Regions from separate parts of the Homo sapiens genome. Here regions 2, 3, 4, 5, 6 and 7 are each linked to region 1. Evidence: fine-mapped expression QTL. A gene starts in region 1. Each other region holds a variant in brackets. All regions are shown on one strand. Distances are from middle to middle.

The links. PIP is the estimated chance that this variant, and not a neighbour inherited with it, causes the effect.
Region 2: its variant is the best candidate, but not a certain one, in a credible set for the expression of CREB3L2 in skeletal muscle (GTEx, PIP 0.82).
Region 3: its variant is the best candidate, but not a certain one, in a credible set for the expression of CREB3L2 in whole blood (INTERVAL, PIP 0.64).
Region 4: its variant is the best candidate, but not a certain one, in a credible set for the expression of CREB3L2 in whole blood (TOPMed, PIP 0.61).
Region 5: its variant is the best candidate, but not a certain one, in a credible set for the expression of CREB3L2 in iPS cells (iPSCORE, PIP 0.61).
Region 6: its variant is the best candidate, but not a certain one, in a credible set for the expression of CREB3L2 in whole blood (TOPMed, PIP 0.82).
Region 7: its variant is the best candidate, but not a certain one, in a credible set for the expression of CREB3L2 in subcutaneous fat (TwinsUK, PIP 0.84).

Annotation. Positions count from the first base shown.
Region 1 is chr7:138,000,351-138,004,562 of GRCh38, forward strand. CREB3L2 (cAMP responsive element binding protein 3 like 2) reads right to left here and starts at 1,736. Exons shown (of 12, transcript NM_194071.4): 1 at 1,254-1,736. The coding sequence starts at 1,355. LOC124901752 (a long non-coding RNA gene) reads left to right here and starts at 1,957. Exons shown (of 3, transcript XR_007060551.1): 1 at 1,957-2,040; 2 at 4,206-4,212. RefSeq lists enhancers at 1-139, 761-1,359, 1,276-1,415, 1,360-1,957, 1,506-1,595 and 2 more.
Region 2 is chr7:137,888,964-137,893,175 of GRCh38, forward strand. The region is part of intron 8 of CREB3L2 (cAMP responsive element binding protein 3 like 2); the gene reads right to left. Among named protein-coding and RNA genes, the nearest start is that of DGKI, 44 kb to the left of the region's middle. The variant G/A (reference allele first, on the strand shown) is at 1,753.
Region 3 is chr7:137,905,223-137,909,434 of GRCh38, forward strand. It overlaps CREB3L2 (cAMP responsive element binding protein 3 like 2), which reads right to left. Exons shown (of 12, transcript NM_194071.4): 5 at 3,030-3,214; 6 at 480-626. Among named protein-coding and RNA genes, the nearest start is that of CREB3L2-AS1, 46 kb to the right of the region's middle. The variant T/C (reference allele first, on the strand shown) is at 2,048.
Region 4 is chr7:137,910,712-137,914,923 of GRCh38, forward strand. CREB3L2 (cAMP responsive element binding protein 3 like 2) reads right to left here. Exons shown (of 12, transcript NM_194071.4): 4 at 2,280-2,367. Among named protein-coding and RNA genes, the nearest start is that of CREB3L2-AS1, 41 kb to the right of the region's middle. The variant A/C (reference allele first, on the strand shown) is at 2,622.
Region 5 is chr7:137,847,970-137,852,181 of GRCh38, forward strand. No RefSeq gene overlaps it. Among named protein-coding and RNA genes, the nearest start is that of DGKI, 3.1 kb to the left of the region's middle. The variant T/C (reference allele first, on the strand shown) is at 2,281.
Region 6 is chr7:137,933,958-137,938,169 of GRCh38, forward strand. All of the region lies in intron 1 of CREB3L2 (cAMP responsive element binding protein 3 like 2), which reads right to left. Among named protein-coding and RNA genes, the nearest start is that of CREB3L2-AS1, 17 kb to the right of the region's middle. The variant A/G (reference allele first, on the strand shown) is at 2,036.
Region 7 is chr7:137,970,685-137,974,896 of GRCh38, forward strand. The region is part of intron 1 of CREB3L2 (cAMP responsive element binding protein 3 like 2); the gene reads right to left. Among named protein-coding and RNA genes, the nearest start is that of CREB3L2-AS1, 19 kb to the left of the region's middle. The variant C/T (reference allele first, on the strand shown) is at 1,992.

The DNA of each region.
Region 1 (4,212 bases):
TGTCCCCATGACAAGCTCAGCAAGCAAAGCCCAGAAGATCACACTGAACATCTGGCTTTTGCCCCAGCATGAACTACCACTCCCTCTCAGCCCTGCACTCTGCATTTTTTTTAAACAAGCCACTCTCAGCCACCACAAATACTTCGGTGGGAATCAGCAGGGAGGCCCTCATTCCTTGTCTCAAAATAACGTCAGCCAGAGTCAAAGGCCAAAGAGGTGGAGCCTGCAGGCCATTTTGCGAAAGTTTCAAATATCTTGGTACTGACCCCATTAAAAAAGCGTGAAGGGGAAGCAGCCAAGCCTCCAGTGGTTTTCTCATTAGTGTCCCCCCTCACCCCAGCCCCACCCCCATTACAAACGTCTGCATGGATAAGAATCAAACAAAGAGATCTTGCATAAAGTCCTATGATCAGTGCTGGCTATTGAAAACAAAATTTCATTTTGCAAACTTAATACCAAAAACTTGACATTAAAAACTTTAAAAGAAATGTGCGTGCTCTGGGACAGCTTAATCCCCCAAGAGATCTCTGAGGCATTAGTATAAGACTGAACAAGCAACTGGTGAGCTGTCCCACCTTCCCCAGAGCCTTTCTTAAATATGCAACTGTCTCAGATTTTCCATACTCCTCTGCTGGTTTTTCCTCCGAAGAGGGAGGAAGGAGACTTCTTGGTCGTACAGTTTAAGAAAGCAAATAAAGCCGCCTTTCTCCCTAACGTAGAGGAGCCCTTTCAACACACACACACACACACACACACACACACACACACACACACACGTGTACTTTTTAAAATATAAATATGAAAGAAGAGGAAGGGAGGGAGAGAGGGAGAGAGAATACGAGACAGATGAAAAGGAAATGCTACTTAATCTTGTCCAGTTTTTGAAAACCTCAAAAAAAAATCAATAGCAAACTAGGCGGAGGCATGTTATTCTCAAAACACACACTCCCTCTCCCGCATTACAGTACTGTTAACAACAGCAAATGATATTACAGATGGAAAAAGCCTCAGGGAAAAAAGCATGAATTGTTAAAGGAATACAAAGTGGCATTACTCTCATGAGAAATGTAAAGGGGCCAGCTGCCCGCCTTCATCTGCTCAGACATTAAAGTACACCTCGCCCAGGACCTCTTGATTCTGACCATGCCCTGCCCCAAACCCTGCCTTCCCGGGTCCCAGGACTCCAGCTGCTCCTCGCGTGACAACACTTGCCCGCTTTGAAAGCCCTCCTGCCCCGCCCGCCGGGTCCTCACCGTGTGGTACATGAGGGCCTCGCCGTCCCCGGGCTCTGACAGCTCGCTCAGCTTGCGGTCCCACTGCAGCACGCCCTGCTCCCCGCTCTCCAGCACCTCCATGGCGGTGCGGGCCGCGCTGGGCCGAGGATGCTAAGCGCAGGAGGGGACGCGCAGAGCTGCCTCGGACCGGCAAGGTTCCTCTCTCTCCGCGTGTGCTTGCGTGTGTGCGCGCGCGTGTCTGTAGTTTTGCACTTGGAAAGCAAACGTCTGCTCCTCTGCCGGAGAGAGGATGGCCAAGCGCTCCCGTCCGGTGTCCTCGGAGATCCGAGAATCCCCAGGGACACGAGCCGGACCAAAGGCTGCCGGGGCTAAAGCGGGATGTGCATCCAAAATGAAGGCAGAAGACCCGCTCTCATCCCAGGAAAATCCCTTAGCCGCAAGCCCACTTGCCGCTACGGCTCCAGACACAAACTTTGAGGGACCCCAGGGCTCCTCGGCTCTGCTCCAGGACCCAGCTGCGGCCCCACCTCCCTCCAAGGCTTGACCAATTGGATATCCGCCTTGCCTAGCAGACCCAATCAGAAGTCTCATTCTCGGCTTTGTCCCGCCCCCAAAGGCAGAGGCCGCGGGAAGTCTCCGCCCACGCCTTGGAATGTAGCCGGGGAGTGTCTGTGACGTCACCGAGGAACTCCTCCTGCTTGAGCGCGGCCCGCTGTCTGCTGTCGCCTACAGCTGACCAATAGAGGGCTTGGGTCCGGAAGTGATGGACTGGAGGCTTGACTAATGTGAAAGGGGCGTCTGAAAGGTACAGCCAATGAAATAGCGACAAGAATACATTTTGTAAAAGAGGGAGGGTGAGTTCAGTCCTCTTGCTGAGAATCCTCAGAAATTTACCAGCGCGCCGACAGGGGGCGCGAGAGTTGTTGCGCGGGGGGCTTAAACATTTTCGAGTACTTTAGTTCATTTGAATCTCTCGGAATTTTTTTAATGGATTACATATTATACAAAAATACAAATATTCCTCATGCACATACATTTATATTAGTGCAGCTCTAGGAAATTGTCATTGTTCTTCACCTTTTTCGCCCATTTTCTGTTGGGTTCTTCTATTTTTTATGGACTTCACTTATTGTATGTTTTTCTTTCATCTGCTTGATAAGAGTCAATGGCATGCTTTTCCAGGTCCTACAGAAGTGAGCCCAGTCCTTGAATTCATAGAGCTTTTATCTCAGAGGAGTCAGGCAATAAACAAAGAAATAAACATTTAAATTCAGAAAGTGGAAATTGCTATAAAGAAAAATAAAAGCAGGAAAACAGGATGCGTCAAGATCGATGCTATTTTACGTGCTGATCAGGGAAGTTCTTCCTAAAGGAAATGAGATTTCGGGGGAAGCTGGTATTCACGTGATTGCTGGGGAGGCCAGTGTGGCTGCAGCAGAGGTGCTTGGCAGGGAGGGGTGGGAAAGGCCAGAAAGGTGAGCCAGGGCCAGAGCACCAGGCCTGCCTCCTAGAATAGGGAAGAGATGGCCTGTTCTAAAGGAATTCCCCCGAACACTGTGATTCTTCTTCCTCCTTTTTAATTCCAAAAATATAGTTTACCTATCTTAAATATAAAAGCAGGTCTTTGCCAGTTAGCTCTAGAAGTTTCTTACAATGGCACATTCAGGTATTAGCTATTGTGTTGTTTCCTTGGCAAGTATTTTTTGGCGGGTGGAGACAAATGTCTTTGAACTCTATGTTGTCTTTAAAGCAGCAGTTTATCATATAAACTATTGCATTTGTCTGGTCCTATCTTCTGGGGTCTTTTGAGATTTTTTTTTTTTTTTTTTTTTTTTTGAGACAGTCTCACTCAGTTACCCAGGCTAGAGTGCAGTGGCACGATCTCAGTTCACTGCAGCCTCCACCTCCTGGGCTCAAACAGTTCTCCTGCCTCAGCCTCCTGTGTAGCTTGGACCACAGATGTGCACCACCACACCCGGCTAATTTTTAAATTTTTTGTAGAGGCAAGATCTCACTTTGTTGCCTGGGCTGGCCTCAAACTCCTGGGCTCAAGCAATCCTCTCTCCTGAGTCTCTCAAAGTGCTGAGATTTAAGGCATGAGCCACCACGCCCAGCTTTTGAGATTATTTTAATGCTTAAATAGAAGCTCTAGTTTATGGGCACACACCTTCCTTATATAATAGTTTTCTCATTTTTCTCTTAGGTTCTTGGTTTTTCTTTTCCAGCCTGGTATCCCCTTCATCACATTCTTTCCATAGATTGCTCTTTCCATTTTTAAAGACCTTTCTTATTTTTTTAATCTGTCACTCAATGTACAATGGGATTACATCCACATAAACCCATCATAAATTGAAAATATCGTAAGTCAAAAATGCATCTACTATACCTAACCTATCAAACATTATAGCTTAGCCTAGCCTACCCTAAGATGTGCTCAGAACACTTATATTAGCCTACAGTTGGACCAAATCATCTGGCAACACAGTACTAGTTATTTACTGTCATGATTGTGTGGCTGACTGGGAGCTATGGCTCCCTTGCACCAGGAGAGAATACCATATTGCGTATTGCTAGCCCGGGAAAAGATCAAAATTCAAAACTCAAAGTACAGCTTCTACTGAATGCATATCTCTTTCACACCATCATAAAGTCAGGAAATCATAAGTCATAAGTCAGGAACCATCTGTACCTCTTCCTTAATGTAGGAATACAAACATTTATCCGTGAAGCATTTCTGCTTTTGACAAAGTCTAATCCTGCTTATACCCCATGTAGTAGCCAGTTTCCAAGATGGCATCTAGTGATCCCACTTCCTGGTGCTCACGCTCTTGTGTAATTCCCTCCTCTTGAGTCTGGGCTAGACCTGAGGACTTTCTTCTAACAGAATATGCCAAAAACGAGAAGATGTCAAAAAGATTATGGCTCCTGACTTGCTTGTTTCCTCTTCCTCTCTTGCTTGCCTGCTTTAAGAGAAGCC
Region 2 (4,212 bases), 110 kb before region 1:
TAAGCTGTTTTGAAAGGGGAATGACCACTTCCATTTTTTACCAACAATCCCTATTGACCAGCAGCCAGCCCGTACTTCCTCCCTGCCCATCCCCTACCCCTTGCCTAGTCCTTAGAGCATGAATAGCTTTAAAAAAAAAATCCACACAAGGAATCAGTCCTCCCTTCCAATTTCTGGTTGATATCTCTGGGCCCTGTACCCCTTCCCCTAGGATGAACAGTCTCCTAGGAGGCTCCCCAGTGCCTCCTGAAAACAGACTTTCAGCAGGCCAGCTACACCTGAAGCCCACTGAAAGAATATCTTAGGCTCAAATTGGAATCCCCCATTCCCCAGTCACAGGTGTAAAGTGCTACAAGTTGGGAAGAAGGACCCTTCAAGAAGGGCTGGAGAGAGCAGAGAGGGCTGGTGTTTCCTGACTGCACAGCACTTTGCTTGGCATTCACGGACACATCCTTTCCCAACTCAAGATGACTATATTCTGAATCCACTGCAAATGAAAATGGTTGTTTAATAGTCCCTGATTTCTAACAGTTTATAATCTAACTCTTTAAGATGAGCAAACATGTGTTTTAAAATACACATTTTTAGTTCGAAATGTTGGTGGAAAGCGCAACAGTGACTAATAATATGCTGTTTGCCATTGCTTCTCCTACTGGTGCTGGAGAAAGTAAACGGAACTGATGGTGGAAATGACAACATGTGCAAGGCCCCATCAATCAGCAACACTGAGGCATTTCGCTCAGTCATCCCCAGAATCCAAACAGACTTCTATGATCCAATAGAGTTTGGGAAATTCACACACATCCATACAACAGAAACACTCCTTTTCATCATAAAAAGAGAAAATGAACAATGACAGAGTACTGAGTGCCTACTACTTGAGTTCCAAGAACTACATACGCTAAAATACTAAGCAAGCATCTCAAAGTCACGTAGCTAATAAGTAGAGGACCTAAGATGTAAACCAAAACCTATCTGACCCCATAGCTTGTGTACATTCCAACATGGTACAGCATGGTACCCTAATCAATAACCTACTAAAATTAATAATAAAGCATGTCTTAGTTAAGTAGATTTTTCTTAACTCCAGTAACATTAATATTATGTTGACACCAGCCCAACTGAGATATGTCCACCATTAAATATGAAAATATTACTATTAAAAGAGACTAAGCCATAGACGGAAGAGCCACAATAAAACCCATTCTGACGGCAAGGAGATGCATACTAACAAAATTTCAGTAACAATGACACAAAAACCATCAGGGCAAATAAATATTGTGTGGTATTTTCTCTGGATACATCAAAGATAAAATGCAGATAATAGATAAAAGAATCAAGGGTACTTCTTGCCTAGTTAAGGTTCAGGAAGTCAAGCCTGGGCTTTATTTAGAAAAATGGAAAATATAAAACCTGTCTCTCTGTGAAACACCAAAAAAGCTGATGAGATGGCTTTAGAATTGCTAAGCTGATGCATATATATATCAGGAGGATTGGCTCTAAAGGCAAAGACACCTGAGTTTCAATCAGAGGATGACTGCTATGTGCCTTTAATCAAGTTAAGTTCTGAGTTTAGGCAGCTACTCAGATGAATTCCCTTGACCACATCAGCTCATGGAATAATGAGAAAATGCCCCCTCCCAGGGTAACTCTGCGTTTGCTGAAGCAAATACATCTTTGAAGAGTGCTTGCTGTCTCTTTTCACTGATGACAGATGAGGCCAGTCCTTTTTATGGGAAAGCCTGTGACCTC[G/A]TAACTGATATGTTGGTTTGAGATGATGTGGCACTTTCTCTGATGTCACTGAGACAGATGTCACTGCCTGCAGCAATGGGAGCTTGGATGACAGCCCCCACCCTACTTGCATGAAGGGCTGGGTGGAGAAAAGACAGCCAGCAGATGAAATGGAAAAGTTATTTTTAAACTACAGCTATAAAAAGTCAACCGCAGGACAGATCCAATGGTGCCTATGAAGCTCAGTATAAACTTCCTCTTTATTATTGTATTTTAAATCATCAGTGATCATGGCTAATTATGGCCTTAATGAATTCTTGGGCTTCCGGGAACAAAATCTTAATTTAGAGAAAGGAATACTCTTAGCATACGTTTATCTGGGCCAACAGATTTTTCACAATTTGTTAAATTGGAGTGTCCAACACTTGATTGAAAATGTGGATTTTGTCCTGTGGTGAGATGTAAAAATAAACTCAGTGGCTATCCTCATGCAGTTCCTTGCAAAAGAGCAGTGGAAAGCAGCTGTCAGCCTTGCCCAAAATAAACCATCACCCTGTATCTTGGGAGGCATATCAAAGGAAATTGGGCAAAACATTCAAAAGAATCCAAGAGTGGGAGACACAATCTTACAATAACTGGGAAATGCATCAACAGTCTCATGTTTTCTTTGTCTTTGGTTTAATTTTGCTTTTTGTGTGTGTTTCCTTATTTACAAAAGAAAGAATGAGAACAGTCATACAGTTATTGAATGTTGGACTTTGAACATTCAGGAACCTAATTTCCCACTGGAGTCAGAAACCAGGAGCAGGAAAAAAAAAAGTGGTGGTTCCCAATTATTTGCTGTGTTGGGAGCTTCAACTTAGGCCCTCTCTGTAGACATACTTTCTTTTTTTTTTTTGAGACGGAGTTTCACTCTTGTTGCCCAGGCTGGAGTGCAGTGGCGTGATCCAGGCTCACTGCAACCTCCGCCTCCCAGGTTCAAGCAATTCTCCTGTGTCAGCCTCCTGAGTAGCTGGGATTACAGGCATATGCCACCACGCCCGGCTAATTTTTTTTGTATTTTTAGTAGAGATGGGGTTTCACCATGTTGGTCAGGCTGGTCTTGAACTCCTGACCTCAGGTGATCCGCCCACCTCGGCCTCCCAAAGTGCTGGGATTACAGGTGTGAGCCACCACACCCAGCCACACATACTTCCATCAAATCTTACAACACATCTTAGAAATGGAACTCTCTGGGGAGTGGTGTGTGCGGGTGCACATATGTGTGTGTGTGCCCATATGTATGTGTGTAAACTATTCCCTGGGTAAATCAGCCTCCTTCAGAGATGAAGGAACTTTTTCACAGCCTTATGGAAGCACCTAGAGCAGTCATTTCCAAATTCCAAATCATGAACCATTTGTGGGTTTGTGAAATCAATTGGGTTGTGACTGATATATGTTTTTAATGAAATGGAGTCAAATAGAATACACAATATCAGAGGGCATTGTATGCTGTAAAGAACTATCGATTTGTGAAGCATTCATATTAGTGAGGTGTATGATGTATATGTACATGTTCATGTGGTAGTCTGGTGTGCCATTTACACTACATAAAATGTAAAATAATTGTACAATCAAAAAAGCCTGAGTGTTACTTATCTAATGCACACAATTAAAAAAAAAAAAAAACAACTTGGTCAGGCACGGTAGCTCATGCCTATAATCCCACTACTTTGGGAGGCTGAGGTGAGCGGATCACTTGAGGTCAGGAGTTCGAGACCAGCCTGGCCAACATGGCAAAACCCTGTCTCTACTAAAATATAAAAATTAGCCAGGGGTGGTGGTGTGTGCCTGTAATCCCAGCTACCTAGGAGTCTGAGGAACAAGAATCGCTTGAACCCGGAAGGCAGAGGTTGCAGTGGGCCGAGATCACGCCACTGCACTCCAGCCTGGGTGACAGAGCAAGACTCCATCTCAAAAAAACAAAACTCAGGTGATGATCAGGTGACCTCATGATGGAAGAGATGAGCATCCATGTCCTTCTGAGGCAAAATCCCCCCTGAATCCCTTCCCACCCCACCCGAGTCACATCTAGAGTTAGTGCCTGGGAGGTTCTGAGGTGAGAAGGGGGTGTCCAACAGCTGAAACCTCTACCTCAAAATCCTGGGATGGAGGGCAGGGAGGTGGCGGGATACAATGTTAATAATTATAAGTTCTACACATTTCATAAGGATATTTAAGGAAAATCATGAACAATCTCAAAGACATTTAAATACTAAAGTGTGTCATACACAAAAGACAACCATATCAGCTCAAACTCCTAAACCTTGAGTAAATACCTATATGTTTATGGCCTTTTACTTAAGTTTTGAAGGTTGTTCATGGGGCTCTGGCCTAAATGAAAAAAAAAAGCGTATAAATTTTCTCCTTTTTCTTCCTGTGTTAATTGCTACATTACAAGAGGCTTCTTTATTTTGTAGGAACCAGAGGGCATTTCTGAAA
Region 3 (4,212 bases), 95 kb before region 1:
CCCTACCAAGAAAAAAAAAAATTAACCAAGCACTTGCAATGTATTTGTATCTTATATATATATAATATATATATATGCTGTATTTTATATAGATACATAGAGTACATATATATGTCTACTAGAGGAAACTATTGTATATATCATACACCCAAAATTTAAAAGGCTGAGTTAAAAAAAAAAAAAAAAAACTAGATGGAAATTCTAATAGCTTCCTCCCACCCGTAAATGTATCATCGTGGGCACCAAAGAGGTAGATACTGATCTGGGAGTCTGCTGGCCTCAAGAGGGATGGGATGGGCTGGAGGAAGAGAGGGGCACGTGGTGAGGGTGCTCCTCCCAGGGCTTAGGGAAGGGAAGGGCTGGGCCTTGGTCTCCACCATGGGATGGGGTAGTGCTGGCCGTTGGGAAGGCAGGGAAAGGGATGCTGACTCGATTCTGCTCGTCTCTGCTCTAGAAGTGCCTAGATTTGAAGAGCTCACCTTATTCTTGATCTTCCTCCGAATTTTCTTCAGGGCCTTCTCCTCTGATTTTGACAGGGGCAATTTGGTGGGGATGGGATAGCCCTCAGCGATCAGGGTCCTCTTCTCCTCCTCTGTCAGGACCAGAGGGCCTGATCCCTGCAGTTTCTGTGCAGACCAAGGAGCAGAAAAGGGTCAAAGAAAAAGAACTGGGACCACTGAAGAATCACCTCCCAATGGGATGATGAGAATCTGTTACAATGTCTTACAGAAGGCTCTGAGACAAGGATGCCCCATCTGCTTTGGGTGACAGATGGGTATTTTGAAGGGCATGGGAAGATGGGGAAGACACCCCCATGTGAGTGTTATAACCTAGGGATTATAATTCAAGGGAAAGAATAAAGAAGCCTCCACCCATTATTTCCCGGGAAGCACCCTACTCGCTAAAACATGAAAAGAAAAAGCAGAGAAGTCATTTCCCACATCCCTAGAGATTTCCTGGCCTTGGAGTGATGAAGGATTCATTTGCAGCCCTGCTTTGTGCAAGAATTTTGTTGTTCTCCTTCTGAAAATGCAGTTTTATAAGGTGCTCTCTACACAACAGGAGTCAATTCTCTCCTCCACTTTTAGCTAAGAGTGCAGAGCACCCAGGGACACATCTGCAGACTCTTTCCACAGAAGCCTCTGGCTTCAGCAGTCTCAGAATGTCCATCAACAATGAAGACAAGAACAGTAGCACATCTCATGGAACCCACAGTAGAATGGCATGTTTATAATTAATCAAACAGAGTCCCTATTGCATTTTAGCTCCATACTAAATGCCATGGAGGACTCAAAACAAACCCTACCTCTCAAGCAGCTTGTGATCAAGACTGTGAGACTGAACTGATACCCATGAAAGGATAAGAGTAATTAAATGCTAAACTGTAATCTTAGCTGATATGGTTTGGCTCTGTGTCCCCACCCAAATCTCATTTTATAGCTCCCATAATTCCCACGTGTTGTGGGAGGGACCCAGTGGGAGATGACTGAATTATGGGGTGAGTCTTTCCCATGCTGCTTTTGTGAGAGTGAATGAATCTCACAAGATCTGATGGTTTTAAAAAACAGGAGTTGCACTGCACAAGCTCTCTCTTTGCCTGCTGCCATCCATGTAAGACATGACTTGCTCCTCCTCGCCTTCCACCATGATTGTGAGGTTTCCCTAGCCACGTGGAACTGTAAGTCCAATTAAACCTCTTTCTCTTGTAAATTGCCCAATCTCGGGTATGTCTTTATCAGCAGCATGAAAATGGACTAATACATTAGCTAAAGGTGTACTAAAAATTTGAAGTAAGAGAACACTACTATGAGTTGTGTGATCAGGAAACGTTTAGGGCAGGAGATGAGATTTGAATTGGGCCTCCTGAAAGAAAGGGGATGATTTACATAAGAGAGAGGAGTGCATTCTAAGCAAAAGGCAGTATTTTGAAAAGTCACTGAAGAAGCCACTGCCTAGTGTGGGTAAGGAGTTCTTGAAGCAGCGGAGGGTTGGATACCTGATAATGAGTAAAGGTGTCAGGGCTTGGTACCAACAAGTAACAGGGAAA[T/C]ACAACATAGTTGTTGGGCAAGCATCCGACATGGGGAAGAGTTCCTCCATAAACATGTAGAATGGACAGATCATAGTAGTACACACAGGTATATAGGATACAAGCTATTCTAGTAATCCAAGGAGTGAAGTCAGGTTCAAGGTGAAAAGGTGAAGAAAGAGTGGAAGGGTGAATTCCCTTGTCCTCAGTAACGATGAAATTTAAGAATGTGGTTGCAGATCTAGAACTTTCAGGGACAGAATCAATACAAATTTTCAAAGTTATGTTAATTAATGGACGGATGGTACTTACAGAATTTTAAAACATCTCATTTCATTTAAATTTTCTAGTTGTGAGATTGTGAATTCAAAATAGCTGATTATAATTTTTAAAATTTCATAGAAATCAATTCACTCCTAGAACAATAAGGAGTTAACGATCTATTCTTCTTTATTATGGTGTCCTCATGTATGGGAGGGATGAACGAGGGGTCTTGATGTCTGATCTGAGTTTCTGGGTTAAGAGTCATATGACACACAGAAAAGGCTTAAACTGTTTTTGACCTTTAGGCATCAAAGAAATTAATCTCAGAGTAATTTTTAAGTTCACCAAAAATTGCTTCTTTAAAATATAAAAGGTATTTCCTATGACATAGGTCACAAGGACCATTAAATTAATGCAAATATTTATGATAGAACTTTGAGGAGAAAAACCCCAAATTTTTATTCCTCATGTCTATAGCTCTGTAAAATAAACATATGAATAAAAACTGGAAGTGTGCATGTGAAAAGGAAGAGAATTGTGGTAGTAAAAGGTGAGATGTGCGGGCAGTTCCTAGAAAGTGTTCTTTAGGGTTGACATCACTCTGCTTTCGCCATTAAGCAGAAACTTCTTGACAAAAGTAAAAACCAAACAGCCTTGAGTGGTCCTGCTCTGGATACAGCCCCAGGGGAATGAATGGAGAGGGTTCCCTTTGGTCCAGGAATGCCCGCTGCATACTTACATGAGGAGCCGTGAGGAGAGGGGAGCTGGAGAGGGCGGAGGGGGCCCGGGGTGCAGCTCTGGAGGGGCTGTGGGTCTGAGGCAGGCTGAAGGGGTGCAGGCGTGGGTTGGGACTCAGGCTGCCCTCTGAGTCACTGCCGTGACTGCTCGGAGGGGTGGGCGGCAAATGCAGGTGGTCCACTGGGGCTGCAAAAAAGGAAGCACATCTCATCCATCCCAGAGCCACAAAGCAGGACACAACTGATTTGTGGCATAGCAAACTAAAGTGTGAGGGGCCTCCATGAGCTGACCTGGACAGATCTCCAAGGTGCAGAGCGTGGATATGGGAGTCCTCCTTTTGTATGAAAAAGGAGAGAAAGAGGATATAGACCCACATTTGCTTATACTGGCAGAAAGAAACACTGGAAGTGAATACAAGAAACCAATAAACGTGCGACCAGGGGCCAGGCAAGGTGGCTCATGGCTGTAATCCCAGCACTTTGGGAGGCTGAGGTGGGCAGATCACCTGAGGTCAGGAGTTTGTGACCAGCCTGACCAACATGGCGAAACCCCATCTCTACTAAAAATACAAAATTAGCCTGGCGTGGTGGCACGTGCCTATAATCCCAGCTGCTACTCAGGAGGCTGAGGCAGGAGAATCGCTTGAACCCAGGAGGCAGAGATTGCAGTGAGCCGAGATCATGCTAAAATACAAAAAAAATTAGCCAGGTGTGGTGGCACACACCTATAGTCCCAGCTACTTGGGAGGCTGAGGCAGGAGAATTGCTTGAACCCAGGAGTTAGGGGTTGCAGTGAGCCAAGATCACACCACTGCCCTCCAGCCTGGGTGACAGAGCGAGAATCCATCTCAAAAAGCCGGAGTGGCTGCTTTGAAAAAAGCCGGTTTGTTTCTGGAGCAATGTGCGTGGTCATGCCCGCAGGCAAGACGCCAGGCATTCTTCATTCAGAAAACATGAAATCCATCTTCAGATACGGGAGTGAGCACAGGAAAAATAAGTGAGAGTGCAGTGGGGGGACTTTCTCCTCTAAAGTCTCCCGCGTCTTTCCTCAAGGAGGCACAACACCCTCTCTGCCAGGGCCTATGGAGCCTTGGTCAGCGTCCATCAGGCATCTCCAGGGCAGCAGAGATGGGCTTCTGAAGGAGGAATCCAACCAGGCTTCCACGTGAATGAAAGCACTCTTGG
Region 4 (4,212 bases), 90 kb before region 1:
CGTCCAAGCAGAGGGCACCCCACAAAAGACAGAAAGAGAATTTGAAGCAAGTGAAGCAAGTAAAATCTTGTCTTTCCTATCTATTAAGAGCTACAGAGCTGGCCAGAGGCACCTCAGGATCAGATTTCTAAATATCATTTGAAATGCTGCTTTTGGGTTACTGCAAGGTCTGGGGACAACAAGCTACTGTGCCTAGAAACTGATGCAGTCAAGGATATTGAATTTCCTTATCTCAGTTTATCCAGGATAATGAGGAAGGGCTGTCCTTAACTTCATTCTTGAAACATTTCTCCTCCAATAACCCTGGATTCAGAAGCCACTATGGGATTCATTGTTATGGTGATGACACTTCTGAACCACATCACAGCATAAATTAAAAGAGTAAGATGCATTTGATAGTAATAACTGGTGTTATACAAACGAAAGCAATTACTTTGAAGCAGTACATAAAGCTGAAAGGCACTACTGTCTGTCACTCAGTGCAAAGACATAGTGTCTCAATATGGATTCTAAGTATTAACTTTTACTAAGTAAATAAGTATTATTTACTAAGTATTATTTCACTAAGTATTATTAACTTTTAAAATTTAATCCTTTCTTTATTGATAATAAAGGCAAATAAAGGGCCAGCCCTGATTACATTGTTACAAACCAAATCCTGAGTTAGTTTCTAATGGAATGAAGACAGACGATATTTTCATGAGAAGTGCTCATATGTAAACATCCTCACATTTATATACCGTAGCAAATATACCTTTTCGGTGACAACTGTATAAGCCAATTTCTTATTTGTTGACCACAGTAGTGAACTGTACTTTGAAATTTGTACTGAAAGTATGAATGGGACCGGGTGAGGTGGCACATGCCTTTAATCCTAACACTTTGGGAGGCCAAGATGGGAGGATCACTTGAGCTCAGGAGTTTCAGACCAGCCTGGGCAACATGGTGAAACCCTATCTCTACAAAAAATACAAAATTTAGCTGGGCGTGGTGGTGCATGTCTGCAGTCCCCGCTACTTGGGAGGCTGAGGTGGGAGAATCGCTTGAACCCATGAGGTTGAGGTTGCCATGAGCCATGATGGCACTACTACACTCCAGCCTGAGCAACAGAGTAAGACCCTGTTTCACACACAAAAAATAAATAAATAAAAAGTATGAATGAAAAGGGAAGTGATGGCATGAGTGAAGGCACAGAAGTGAGAAGAGCAGGATGTATGCCGGAGAATCTGCATACGCAAGGCAGAGAGAGCTTCATTAGACCTCATGAGGCTCAGGGGTCTGCATCCAGGATTCCTAACTATGGGCTTCATAGGAGAACAAAGAGGGAGAAACTCAGAAAGAAACTGACATAGAGAAAGATAAATATAGAAATATAACAACCTTGGCCAGGCGTGGTGGCTTATGCCTGTAATCCCAGGACTTCAGGAGGCCGAAGCAGGCGGATTGCCTAAGGCTGAGAGTTCAAGACCAGCCTGACCAATGTGGCAAAACCTCGTCTCTACTAAAAATACCAAAATTAGCTGGGTGTGGTGGTGCACGCCTGTAATTGCAGCTTCTCAGGAGGCTGAGGCACAAGAATCGCTTGAACCTGGGAGGCAGAGGTTGCAGTGAGCCGAGATGGTGCCATTGCACTCCAGCCTGGTAACAGAGTGAGACTCTGTCTCAAAAAAAAAAAAAAAAAAGTATGATCACCTCAAGGATGTGTTAATTCTAAATGGATGGATGTCAAGAAGCCCAAAAAGATGCACAATTGTGAACCATGAACATGACCAAATAGAGAGGGGGCTCCTTGCAATAGTTGTCATTCAAAGTCAATGTTTACAAACAATGAATTGGCCACATAATTAATTGTGAATTTACTTCACAAAGAGTTGAAACTAGAGTTGTTTGAAATAAGCAAGGTGCTTTTGTAGATGGTTGTTGATTTGTGGGGCTACGTAGGGTTCACGCCTGGATGAATAAGGGCTGCAGTTCTCTTGTTCGATAGTGTTTGTAGTAGCAGTCCATAAAAGTTTTGAAAAATATCACCCTGGTTAGAAGTAAAAGTATGGTAACACTTAGCTGAAATTTAATCACGTGCATATATGGGAAAATAATAGTTAGCTTGCAAAATTTTTATTTGGAAGCAAAATTTTTATTTTTTAAGAACAGAGCTATTTCATAAAGCCAGCTACAACATCTGTGGTACAAACTCATCCCAGCTCTCTCGCCATATTCCCTCTCTGTAGACCCAGAGACCATATCCATAACCCAAAGGGACACAGGGAGGGCAGACAGACCTTCTTTAGGAGAGAAGTTTAGAAACTGATCCACTTCATGAGGCTCCAGCTTAATTTTAGGAATAATGGTCTGGCACGAGGAATCAACCTGGAGGAAGAATTTCAAACACAATTTTTAAAAACCAATCACAGCCTTGAAGACACATGCAGGAGAGCTATTTGTCACCTGTGTCTTCCTCTCGGGACAGCCCTGCCTATCCTGGAGAATAGCTGAGTGTAGGCAACTTCCCTGACAGGGAGTCATTTTAGTTCTTAACCTTTTTCTCATTGCCAAACTTGGCATTACAGCTGACAGGACCTTCAGAACTTCCTTGAGACCACCCTGGGTAACATAGTGAGACA[A/C]CGTCTCCCCAAAAAAATACAAAAATTAGCCAGTTGTGATGGCGTGCACCTGCAGTCCCAGCTACTTGGGAGGCTGAGGCAGGAGAATCACTTGAACCCAGGAATTTGAGGCTGCAGCGAGCTGTGATCATACCATTGCACTCCAGCCTAGGTAACAGAGTGAGACCCTATCTCAAAAAAAAAAAAAAAGAAAAAAGAAAAAAAAAGAAAAAGAAAAACACTCAGAACTCTAAAGTTGAAAGCCAAATGCTCAAGCCCAAAACTATATCAATATTCTTTTCTATGTTTTTATAGTACTATAAAGGCATTTTATTACAAAATATTCTGGTACTTTTTTTTTTGTGGCATCATTCTGCTAACTTTATTCTTTATACATAGTTTGGGTAAAGTAAGAACCAAACACTGCTTCCACTCCCCCTATCCTCACTCCACTTTGGGGGCTTTAAAAAGCAACTTATAGTTGATACTGGTGAGGATTCCCAAGACTACAGAATTTAGTTGTAGAGCGTAACTGTGCATTTGATCACTGAAAGAAAATAAGAGACCTTCTAAGAGGTGGTGACCTTAGCAGAATAAGGAGGGGCCAGGGGGTCTCTTATCCCAGTTCAGCCTCACACCAGCCTGGGAGTTTTCCCTGCCTGCAACGTAAAGCAGCCTGTAAATTACATATAGCCACAATGCACTTAAATCGAGTCAATCACCATGGAAAATGGGAACTAAATTTTAAAGAGTCAAAGGCCTCCACCAGCTTGCCCTGGGGTAGGGACTGTGCACCAAGCCACATCCTTTCTCTTATATATAACTTTATTAATATTAATAATTAATAATGTTATAATACAATTAATATAATTATTAATAATTAATATTAATGATGTTATTATTAAGGCTTCCTAATGACTGATGGTATCTAATCACGAAAATCCTGGTAGGGAAAGGAGAAAAGTTATCTGGCCCATACACAGGAGCAAGGCCATGCCTCTGAGCTTTGCTAGTTACATACTTTACAATAATTCAACTAGGCCGGGCATGTGGCTCACGCCTGTAATCCCAACACTTTGGGACGCTGAGGTGGGCGGGTCACTTGAGGTCAGGAGTTCGAGACCAGCGTGGCCAACATGGTAAAACCCCATCTCTACTAAAAATACAAAAATTAGCCAGGCGTGGTGGCTGGTGCCTGTAATCCCAGCTACCTGGGAGGCTGAGGCACAAGAATCACTGAACCCGGGAGGCGGAGGTTGCAGTGGGCTGACATCATGCCACTGCACTCCAGCTTGGGTGACAGAATGAGACTTCTGTTTCAAAAAAAAAAGTAATAAATAAAGTAACTAAAATTCTGTGGAGCAAGGAGACTAATATAGACCAGAGAGCCCAGCCTAATAAAGAGACTCAGGTAGCTACTGAGAAAGGAATCCTAGCACACTTGCAGAGGCCTCTGTCTACAACCCTTCATCATCTACACAGATGGACTGACAAGGGAGTAAGCAGTGACACTTTAATGAGTCTACTGATTCTGTGTTACCATATTCTGAACAGGTAGACACTACATCTTTTTTTCTTTCTTTCTTTTTTTTTATTTCTTGAGACAGAGTCT
Region 5 (4,212 bases), 150 kb before region 1:
GTGGTGTGCCCGTGAACAAAGAATTGTAATACTGGCAAAAATCTAAATTGCTTTCTTTCCCTTTATTTTCTCATCACTAAAATTAGGAAAATGAACAGATATGTCAAATCTCTTCTAACACCCATGTTCTGTAACTCTCCTCGTATGTACCTTATAATAAGACAAAGGTAAAGACATTTCCATGTGCAGCGAGGAAAAGTAATAATAAAAATTAAAACAACTAGCAAGTATGAAGCCCTCTTTTTATACGGTATGTGCTGTATAAGCACTTCCCTCATCCACCTCTATGTTTTCACAGCACCTCTCAAGGGCTTGGACACGTGCAAATGCAAACTGGCAAAGCCAGGAGTCAAGCCAGGCTGCTCAGTGGCCTTTGTGCTTCACCCCAGTTTAATGCACCCGTCTTCAGAAGGGACATCGTGTATTAGGTGCTTCAACACAAGATCCACGAATATCTCGTACATCCCTAAAATCAAGCAAATGTCATCTGAACCCAATTACTGGGACAGCCCCCTCATTACTCCCACTTACTTTTAGCCGTATCTTCCCCAATCCAATCTCAAGTGTGAGCCCCAAAATACTTCTGATTTTTCACGCCTCCACTTAAAAATCTTTTGATTATGTCATATTGCCGTTAGGGTAAAGTTCAAACAACTCAGCTGATTTTGAGGGCTACATTGGTGGGTGGTGGAGTACTGCCCGCTTTCCCTTCATACTGTCATGACAGTGAGGTTCTGAACTGTTCTTTGTGCAAACCCCACACGCTCTCTGCTCTCTCCATTCCCATTTTTGCACGTGTGAGTCTGCTGTCTCCTCTTCTTTGCTTCTCCTTTTCCTAAGATTTGCCAAGCCAACTACTCTACACCTCCATCGGATTTTAGTTTACATGTCTCTCCCCATGTTTCTCCCCACTAGAAGCCTCCGTTGATGATCCCTTTCTAGACTGTGATGGACGTACCTCCCATAGCTCCCATTGCACCATTGTACTAAACTTGGACCACTGCAACTGTCATGTGTCTATTTATCCCACATGTATATAAACGCTATATGTTGTTTATCACTATATCTTCAGTAATAATAAACAGGTAACATAATTGCATAAGTGTGTATATCATAGACCATCATGAAGTGTTTATTGACTGAGAAAAGAAATATACATCGTTGTGAACATAATGAAAGACGTCATTTTTCAGAACAAACAGTTTGATAATAGATGGTATTGATGAGGGGGTATGAAAACAAATGCTTCCTCAAATTTTTGATATACTTTAACTAGTAAAATCTCTCTGATGGTAAATTTTACAATATCTATCCATGTTTGAAATGCATGACCTAATTAACTAAGCAATTTCACTTCTAAAAATTCGTCCTCTGATATACTTGTAGGTATACACAAGGATTTAAGATTGAAAACAACCTAAATTGTTATTCATCCAAACAATGGAATTCTCTGGAACTGTCAAGATACATAAGGCAAGTTAACATTCATTAATATAAAACAATCTCAAATATATAATGTTAACAAAAAAAGAAAAACAATGCTCAGAGTATTTAGTAGTATGCTATCATTTATGGAGAAAAGAAGATCTATAGAGATATAATATTTCTGGAAGGATACATAAGAAAATGGTCACAGTGAAGCGGAGTTGAATGGCTCTAGCTAGAGTCTTGAGGTTTTGCCTGATTCAATAAGTACATGCCAACAGAATGTCTCCCAGCCTATCAGAAAAGCCAGCTGGACCTCTCAAGTGTGTATTTATATGTTTAAATAGTGTATTAATGGGTTGCTAATCAGAGGAATATTGGGTTTTTAAAAAAACAGTCATTGAACATTAACTCTAACTTAAGACAGAGCGACATTTGGGAAGCACAAATAATTCCAGCAAAAGACAAATGAATTCTGTTGTGGGGTGATCTCCTGAGAAGTTACTTAAAATATTAGTCATTCTCTTAGACAATTTATTTTCCTTTCTATTTTTCAACGATCACCAAGTAACCTTGTAATTATTCATCCTGCTTCTTAGTTTCCTTGACACTAAAAAGTGGAATCCTTGAAAATGGGTCAAAAGCATTCTAATCACAAAAATAAATTGACATTCTGCTTTGAAACTGCATTGCATGTGATTTTGAGTAACATAAGTACATAACCAAGAAAATGAGCATCTCTGGGTATATTGAAACATCCAGTGTCTGGACCTGGAAGTATAATCTCAGACCTCAGATGGACAATATTTCCATGACTGGGCCCAAAGCCATGCCCCATTTGGTGAGCTTCCTAAC[T/C]CACCTTTCTATTATTAATTACTGTTCAATCTAAAACAGGTGTCATCCTAGTCTTAAATACCAACCTTGAGTCTCCTAAATGCCGAGCTTGATAAAAGGGCTTCAATGTGAAGTTTGAAAGAAAGAAGAAAAAAAATTTAAGTCTAGATAAGACTGCAAGACCAGATAATAATGAGAACATTATATTTAACATTTTTAAATGTATGTAGTTTTCAGGAATTTCAGGAATTTTCCAGAAATAACACAGAATGTTTTTTTAAAAAGTGACACATTTAAACATGCATATGCACACATTGGAGACCTCAGTTATGTATAAAACCAGGAAAAGATAATAGAGCTTTTGAAAATGTTGTCACTGAGGAAAAAAAGAAAAAGAAGTTTCCAGGATTAAGTTTCCAGGATGTATCATGTTGTACAGAAATGATAACTGAGCTCTCTTGTCAAAGCCTACAAGGCCCCACTTGGTCTCTCCTGTGCCTCCTCCATCCCTGCAGTCCCTCACCTTCTGACTCAGCTCTCCTAACATCCCATTTCTCATACATGCTGTATTAGTCCATTTTCACACTGCTATAAAGAACTCCCCGAGACTGGGTAATTTACAAAGGAAAGAGGCTTAACTGACTCACAGTTCTGCATGGCTGGGGAACCCTTAGGAAATTTACAATCATGGCAGAAGATGAAGGGAAAGAAAAGACCTTCTTCACATGGCCGTAGGAGAGGCAGAGCAGAGAGTGAAGGGGGAAGAGCCCCTCATAAAACCATCAGATCTCGTGAGAACTCACTCACTATCTTGAAAACAGCATGGGGAACCACCTCCATGATCCAATCACCTCCCACCAGGTCCCTCCCTCGACATATGGGGATTCCAGTTCGAGATGAGATTTGGGTGGGGACACAGAGCCAAACCACATCACATGCTGAGCTTATTCCTGCCTGCCCGTAAAGCTCTACCTCAGAGGTTCCCAGACTTTCTCAGTTCACACCACCCTTTACTGAATGTCTCAGTAATTATTTTTCCTGGCACTTCTAGGCTGAGATTTATGAAGATGAACCTAACACTTATGTTTATTAAGTATTCAGATGCTAACAATTCAATAAACATTTACTTCTTGACAACATTAGTAGCTATTTGAAAAAAACATAAATTGAAAGAAAAAATGTTTGTACTTCATTTGTAAGCAGCCACAATCACTTACCAATGGGATAGTAATGGGCATGACACAACCTCTCAAATCTTAGGATCATATTAGACACCACCACCTTCATTTCCTGTTCCACACTAATTTTCATGTGGTATTGCTCCTTAATACCACATGAAATTGCAACCACCAAAACCCAGCTTTGCAAACATAATGATGTCACTGAAAGAATGTAGTGTAATCTAGTGTTGAAACTATCAACTACATTGAGTCAGTAGTATGCATGGTGTCTAACAAATGTCAAGTATCTCTGAGTTTCTTTCAAAATTTTAATATATCCTGCGGTGCCCCTGTGAATATACGGCAGAAACCTGAGCACCTCCATGAACCTGAGCACAATTCCTGAACTATGGTTCATATTTTTGTATTGTGTTTGTTTTTGTCTGAGTTTTCTAGAAAACAGATCCTGAGGCAAAACTTACAAGCCAAGACTTTATGTGAAGTTGTAATTCCAGGACTCAAGAATGAAGGAAAAAGAGAATCAAGGCTGAAAAGGAGGGGAAAGTAAATTCAAGGTGGCGAGTTATGAATGACTACAGCATCACAAAACAACATACCTGCTTTCTTGGTCACCAGCACTTCTTCCAGACAGGACCTACATCATTATATCCAGAAACATTCTGTCCACAGGAGAGAGTGGAGATTCTCTGCCAATGTCTTCTTGTCTCCTGTTGAAACTGGTTGAAGTTTGTCCCTTAGAGAACTAATTAATTCACCCTCACCTCCAGGTTCT
Region 6 (4,212 bases), 66 kb before region 1:
GTGAGCCTCGAGGAGGAAGCCTTTCTGGATACTGCAAACGCTTTAGCGAAGTACTGCTCATGTGAACCCAAGGGTTATGGGATTTTAGTTTAATTCCTTCAAAGGCAATGGCATAATAACATTTTAGCATTCTAATATTTGAATCAAACTTTATGAGTTTACAAAATAATTTCATAACCTTTTTCTCACTCAATACTCACGACAATCCTGTAAATTGGCTTTTAGTCCATTGTCCAAGATCTCTGTCCCCTACTGAGAGACCTTGAGCTAGGGTACTCATGTCAAATTGACTGAATTTTTTTTCCTTATTGTTTCTCCTAGGAAAGAGATATTTAAGCCTCACAATACAACTGTATGGAGAGGTTCTAACAAGTGTAAAACCATGATGGTGATGATCATGGATAATGATGTTGTCAGGATTAGGTGCTAGACTTGTGTGATGGACTAAGTACTTGACATACTCGATTTTCAGAAAATGAAAACATGTCCCCATTTACAGATCAGAAAACTGGGGCTCAGGATAATTAGCTATTTTGCCCTGAGATGCACAGCTGATGAAAGGTGAAACTGATATTCTAGCCCATGTTCAGCCAGTTCCAAATCACAGGCACTTTCTACAGCATGCTCCCTCATTTGTGTCAGCCTCTAAAGCTAGATAAAGATAGGCTCACAGACGGTCATCCGCTATGAACACATGGTCTCCTGCACTAAACCTGTAGAAACATGCCAAGAGTTTGTTAGAAGGAGAGGCTCCTGGTATCACTTGCTGTGATACATCAGCAATAAGGATGGAGATACTTATTCGGCCTTAATGCATGTTTCTGCCAAAGGATTCAAGCAACATCACAGAATCTCTCAGTTGGAAGAAACCTCCTAATAGGATTGAACCCCTGCCTCACAACATAAATGTTCTTCACCCAGTTCAGAGAATACACATGGCAACTTCCCTTAAAAATTTGTGTCAAGTTTTATCTCCCCATTATCTTAAGATTCTGAATTAAACATCCTGCAACTATCCCATAAAGTTTTGTCTCCCTTTATTCTTATAAACACAACACCTTCATTGCAATCCTAATGGTCACAGTATGGCATTGTGGCAATGTAGCTTTGGAGTCAGTCAGCCCTAAATTTGAATCCTGGCTGTGCAAGCCTGAGGAAGATATGTCCATACTCCAAACCTTGGTTTATGAGGTTAACAATAATGCCGGCAAAGTGAAGTTAACAATAGTTCCGGCCTTGTGTCATGAGAATTAAACTAAATAATGCACGTAATACACCTAACACTTCACTGCATAGCAATCTTTTAAAAAGCTCTTTTAAAAAACTAACATAATTAAAACAATAAAATGTTGGCATTTTCTACTTGCACACCAGCTTCTCGCATTGTTCTTCCTAGAATATGCTTTCATTTTCATCTTTACCAAACAGGAAACTACCTAAGACAGAACAAATGTACTTCTTTTAGAAAGTCATCCCTAGACAGATACACCTTGAATTGATCTCTCATTTCCCTAAACAAGTAAAGCCCTTTAAGTATCTCTTAATTTGACACATTTTTCCTTTTCTTTGATGTTCCTTTCATTGCCAAGTTACTTAAATATCTTATCACTAGGCCTTCCAAACTCTATGGCCCAGATGTAAACCGTTTACCCACCCCTCTCTCTGGACCTAGCCCAGATCAGAGATCATAGATCGTAGATAGTTGCTGCATTCAACAACTATCTCATTTGCATCTATTATCATTCTATAACATCCTAACGAAATAGAAGATAAATCCAAATTAGGGCTAGATCTCCCAACAGTTATAAATAAGTGCCTTCAAACATTTAAAATGTATATCCAAATTTACAAATCAGATAAATTAGGAGAAATTTTTATCCTTATAAGAATTACTTATTTTATAAAAAATTACCTCGGCTCTGAAGCATTTACGCTTTGAGTTTTCAGGTCACTAATGAACTGCCAAAGTAGCTTGCAAGGAAGGAGTGGTTTATGATCTGGGCCACTTCCTGCTGCTAACAACTGCCCTAAGATC[A/G]GAGGTCACGAGGGTGAGGAAAGGGGAACAAAGTGGGAGGAAAAGGAAGGATTCATAATTCTTTAGTTCAAATAACTGGCTGCATAAAGCTACCGACCTGTCTTCCGTACAGTACTCTCCACTAAGGTTCGCCCACTCAACAAATACAGTGGGAGCATGGGCAGAAAGATGAATAAAGGTCAGTCTTATAAAGACAGAGTTATCCCAAGGTGCAAAATGAGTTAGCCAGAATGTATGTCCTGTGCCCCATCATCCAGAGAACTTGCAGAGCGTGTTCTAAAGCAGTTGTGCCATCCCATAGTCAGCCCAACAGGCCTCTTTTGTGCACAGGCTAACAGAAGAGTGCTGCACCAGACCAGTTAGGGACAGGAGTTCTCTAGTCCCAGCCTTGCACTTCAGTGGTGGTCAGTCTGCCTCTTCTAGACTCAGTTTCCTTACCTGTAAACCTCTGTGTGTGTGCGTGTGTGCATGTGAGTGTGTGAGTGCTATGTGTACTGGGGATGAGGGTAGGCTTTAAACCTGATCAGTAGTTTGTCACCTTTTTTCACCTTTTTTAAATTCTTAGACCCTTTTGGGAATCTAATGAATGCTCCTGCCTGACAACCTAATGCTCCTTTTGGGAATCTAATGACAGTCCTGCCTGAGAAATGCTCACAGCCACAAACACACAAACACAGCCCAGCATTTCAGGAGGCTGACCCGCCCCTGAAGTCTGTCTGCAGACGGCAGGGGGATTCCATGGATCCCGGGCTAAACCCTGCCAGCAGAGAAAGTAGTAATAACACAGGGATATTTATAAGTCATTGCTAACAACCTATTCAGCTCTACTACCCTATCATTTTCTAAAATGTTGCAGGCAACATAAAATGGAGCTACGAAGGTTTTTCAACTTGGGAAAAGGAGGACAGAGAACACCCTCTTTCTGCCTCCCGGGTTTGTTTAGATTTGCCCCTGTAATGCCAGCCCATGGGCAGTGAAGCAGGTGGCCACGGCAGGTAATAGGATTCAGAAAGCAGAACCTGGGCTGGCAACAAGAGGCCCAAGGCCTGCCGGGGCTCCTTCTGAGCTCCCCAAGCATTCAATTCCCAGCCCTGCCCTCTGGGAAACAGGGAAGCTTTGCAGCCAGTCTCTGGCTGAAAAGATAGTTCTCCGGCAGGCAGGAGAAGAAGCCTCTGTACTTAAAAATCGTGGCTAGGAGCCTTACCTAGAGCACAGAATGCCTCCCAAAGACTGGAGCCATAGAAGAAGGGAGTGTGGCAAGAGCAAGCTGATCCTCTCCATAAATGATTCAGAGGACACAGCTCAAATTCACATTAGAAACCAAGGCCTCCTTCCAGCAAAACATAGTTTGACTGTATTGCTCAGGCAGGGAGGAGCTGCCCTGGGCTCCTGGCATCCCCTAGGCCACCCTCCCTCCTCCCCTTGCAGGGAGAGAAGGGACCTGCCTTCAAAACCAGTGCACCTTAGACCTGAGTGGCTCTCACACAAGTACCCTGCACACAACACACAGAAAAGGGCCAGATGCCAACCATGAGGAAAAAGGTGACCTTGTCAAAGTCCCAAGAAAAAAAAATGGCTCACAAGTCAAACTCCATTACAGTGAAATTTCAAGGATACCCAATTCTTTTCTAGTACAAAAATGTAGGCCCATTACATATTTCTTTAATTTTTAAAAAATGGGGGCTGAGCTTCGAACTCTTTATTACACCAGAGTTTTGGAGATTTGTGGTGGGGGTTATTTTGGGGAGGGTGTTTTGTTCTGAAGTGATATTTGCTTTACTGAAATTTCACTAGCAGTAACAAAAGCTGTGTTTTAAAGAGGCTTATTACCAAAAAAAAAAAAAAATTAAATAAATAAATATATGTACACCTTGCTTGGTAGTATCCAGATGAACCTTTTTTTTTTGTAAATGAAGTATGTGAAATAGATTAAGCAATAAAGGCATTGAGAGATGATATTTAAAGGAAACCTATTATAAATCCATTGGTAGGGTATATTCAATATTTTGTAAAAGGAGTCACCCTGGGAGAAGGAGGAATAAATAGGTGGACCACAGATGATTTTTAGGGCAGTGGAACTCTGACACGGATACTATAATGGTGGAGACACGTCTTTATACATTTGTCCAAATCTATAGAATGTACGACACAAGAGTGAACCCTAATGTGAACTATGG
Region 7 (4,212 bases), 30 kb before region 1:
AAGAGCTGGCTTCTTCCTTCCTCACAGTAACTGCCTTGATGACTGGCAGTGTGGCCCAGACAGAGCACATTCCATAGGGCTGGACAGCAGGCGTGGGGCCAGCAACCGTTAAACACACTTTTGTATCCTCCACTAAAAAGAATGTCTGGAACCAACAGCATGTGCCTTGTTCTAAGAACAGATTTCTCCTCCAGCTATTTCTCCAGCTTACAGAAGAAGTGTTTATGCAGTGTGCACCTACCTACACTACGGTTACTTTATAGCTGGGTGCCTCAGTGTGAGATACTTAAGAATATCCATATTTTTAAAAAGCTTGGAGAATGGCATGCTTCCAACATCAGCATGAACCTAGACCCTAAATTAAGTTAGCACACATATTAAGAGATACACACAAACTTCAAGAAAAAACAAAATCAAGTCTACACAGAGTTTAAAGGTGCCTACTTATTTCCAGAGTCAGAATTATGTTTAAAAAAAAAACTGGGGCCAGGCGTGGTGGCTCACGCCTGTAATCCCAGCACTTTGGGAGGCCAAGAAGGGCGGATCACGAGTTCAGGAGATGGAGACCATCCTGGCTAACACGGTGAAACCCCATCTCTACTAAAAATACAAAAAATTAGCCGGGTGTGGTGGCGGGCGCCTGTAGTCCCAGCTACTCGGGAGGGTGAGGCAGGAGAATGGCGTGAACCTGGGAGGCGGAGCTTGCAGTGAGCCGAGATCGCGCCATTGCACTCCAGCCTGGGCATCAGAGCGAGACTCCGTCTCAAAAAAAAAAAAAAAATTTTGGATGGGGGGAGACATTGTATGAAGGACACTAAGGCAACACTGCAGACACCGCAGAACTTGATCTTTTTGCGGCTAGGCTGTGATGTGTGAGTGCACACAAAACACCGGTCCTTACTCTCTGCAACCCGAATCCCCTGGATCTCTTTCCCCATTGTAAATAACCTTATCATAAGTTCTTACCTTAATCATTAACTTCTCTGGATGGTACAAAAAAAAAAAAGGCCAGGGTCTGTTTTCTAATGTATATTCTTGCTCTTTCCATTTTTCTAAAACTATTAATTAAACATTAAGCCAACTTATTTAAAAGAGGGAAAAATGGGAAATAACCTAAAATCCTAATAATTGGATGTCACTTAAGAACCTACAAAACATACACTCAATGAACAATACACGGCCATTAAAAAGTGATAGATAGGCTGCTCTGTCTATGGAGTAGCCATTCTTTCATTTGTTCACTTCCTTAAAAAAAAAAAAATAATGGCTAAGTATTAAAATAGGAAAATGTCCATTATTAAATACAAAAGGGCATGGCACAATAGTTATATGAATATGTTTTATTAATAGCTATGTAAAAGAAGTATTCATAAAAAAAATCTGAACTCTAACACAAGAGAAATTAACAGCAGTTTCGGGAGTGCATAATGAGCTTTTGACAGATGTCTTGGCTGGGCGCAGTGGCTCATGCCTGTAATCCCAACACTTTGGGAGGCCTGTAATCCCAGCACTTTAGGAAGCTGAGGCGGGCGGATCACAATGTCAGGAGTTCGAGACCAGCCTGGCCAACATGGTGAAACCCCGTCTCTACTAAAAATACAAAAATTAGCCGGGAGTAGGGTGCACACCTATAATCCCAGCTACTTGGGAGGCTGAGGCAGGAGAATTGCTTGAACTCAGGAGGCAGAGGTTGCAGCGAGCCAAGATCATGCCACTGCATTCCAGCCTGGGCGACAGAGCAAGACTCCATCTCAAACAAAACAAAACAAAACAAAACAGAGAGATGTCTTTTTTGCTTGTTTTTTAGTTTCTTTAATGAGGTAATACTCTTTTTGTAATGAACAATAAGAACAGTATTTTTTTCTTGATAAATAAAAGGAAGCCAGGTTTGGTGGCTCACATCTGTAATCCCAGCTACTTGGGAGGCTGAAGTGGGAGGATAGTTTGAGGCCAGGAGTTTGAGACCAGTCTGAGCAACACAGTGAGATCCC[C/T]GTCTCTACAAAAAAAAAAAAAAAAAAAAAAAAAAAAATATATATATATATATATATATATAGAGAGAGAGAGAGAGAGAGAGAGAGAGAGAGAGAAAAGAAAAAGAAAAACCTAGGATAAAGGTTGATTTCTTATTTTAAATTCCACAGTCACCTAAGGGAACTAAACTCTAAGGCACCTGTAACATTCATGAATAAATACACTGTGGATCAACCCAGGGAGCATTTTCATACCAGCAAGGCCCCAGAATGGACACCCTGGTAACAAAGTCCTCTTGTTTGGGGGAATGTCCCCAAATCCCTATATAGGAAAGAAGCTTCAGGGCCTCTATGAAAATATTTACACATGAGAGAACACAGACACACACACCCCAAATCCACATGAGAAATTGAAGAAATAGCATATCTAGTGGGTGCAGCGCACCAGCACGGCACATGTATATGTAACTAACCTGCACATTGTGCACATGTACCCTAAAACTTAAAGTGTAATAATAATGAAAAAAAAAAAAAAAGAAATAGCATATCATGAAAAACTAAAATGGTTTGAAATTCTTCAACTAACGATGACCTTAATCATAGAAGTCCCCATTCCAACTTGTTTGCCTTGTACGGAAGACTTGGGTCCCAAGGAGAATCCACACACTCCTGGTGAGGGTGTGCTAAAGTTGATCAAGTTTAACTAAATAGGTTCAGTACCGCACCAAGGAACACAGAGTTTCCCAGACAGCGGCCCACCGGCGCCTATTCTCTTTGAACACAATGGAGAGGCACATGACCCTCGGGAGCTAGAGGAAAGCTCACCTAGAGTGAGTTGGAGTCTGCTGTGCTCCTTGGTGGGAGCAAGTAGCAAAAAGGTAACAAGAGATATCCTAAAGTCAAGAAGGTAGCAGCACAGGGCCCATCCGACACAAGATCACAGTTAGTAAGCCCAGAGACTTATTATGATGGATCTGAGACACTAATGCCTAATGCCACGAGGCAAAAAAGTGAGACTGCCAAGAGGGACCCTACTAGTCAGCCATAGTTTTACAACTCAGTCTTCAAATCCTTCTCTTACACACCTCCTGGCATTGTTTAATCAATTATTCAGACAGGGCTTCTGATGAATGGCTCCCCCATTCATATTCACAGTTAAATTCTCCAATAGTTAACTATGCACGTTTTCACAAGATTTCCAACAACCTGAAAACATTTTATGAGCTGGCATTGCATGTTCTGGGGAGTATTTCCAAACCAATAACTGCTCATCATTGTCTCTGCTGAAGTGAATCTGGAACGAGCCAAGACCGAGAAATGATGGCACAGGGAACCTATCAGAGGCAGAAATATCCATATTATAAAGTTAGAAATAAAATAATGCCAAGCATCTGCTCTTTAAAAAAAAAAAATCAACCTCCTTGTGTAAAAAGAAAATGAATAAAAATACTTGTCCTACCTACCCCATTGGTTTCATTCATTGAACAAATATTCCTGAGAGCTGGGTACTGAGGTACAACGGTGATGAAAAGCAAAGAGACCCTTGCTCTATTGGAACTTACAATAATGGGAGAGAAAAGGTGAAACAATCAAAATAATGAATCAAAAACATGAAATATTATAACCCCTCTGAAATAAAGGAATACAGATCTCTAAAAGCAGGAAGAGTTTCCTTAAGGCTTGAGCACAATCTGAAGGCTAAGCACCAGGCAAAGGGAAAAGGGTGAAAAGAGTGTTCCAACCAGGACCAACCGGCATGTACAAAGGCCCCATGGCAGGAAGAAATGTATTTAAAGATCTTAAAAAGGGGAAGGGGACTCATGGATGGAGCGCAGATTGTCAGGGAAGAGATCAGATGTCAGGGAAGAAATCTTTGAAAAGATTTCTCTTAAACTTGGGGATGACACGAAAGAGAGAGAAGGGAGAACAGATATGAGAAAAGTTGTTAATAGGCTACTGCAATAGTCCTGGCAAAAGACAGGGATAGCTCAGTTCTAATGAGGTGACCAAGGAGATGGAAAGAAGTGAATGGAGTCAAGCTATTCAAGAGGGAAGAGCCACAGGACTGAGTGACAGATGGGATACAAGTTAGGAGAGAATGACATCAAGAACGGCTCCTAGGTGCCTGGCCTGCCCCAGTGAATGTTTGACTGCACCATTTGCTGGAGATAGGGAACAGGTTTGGGGTAGAGCCTGTGAAAGGTGAGGAACCTTTGAGATAGTCCAGTGGAGAGACAAGCTG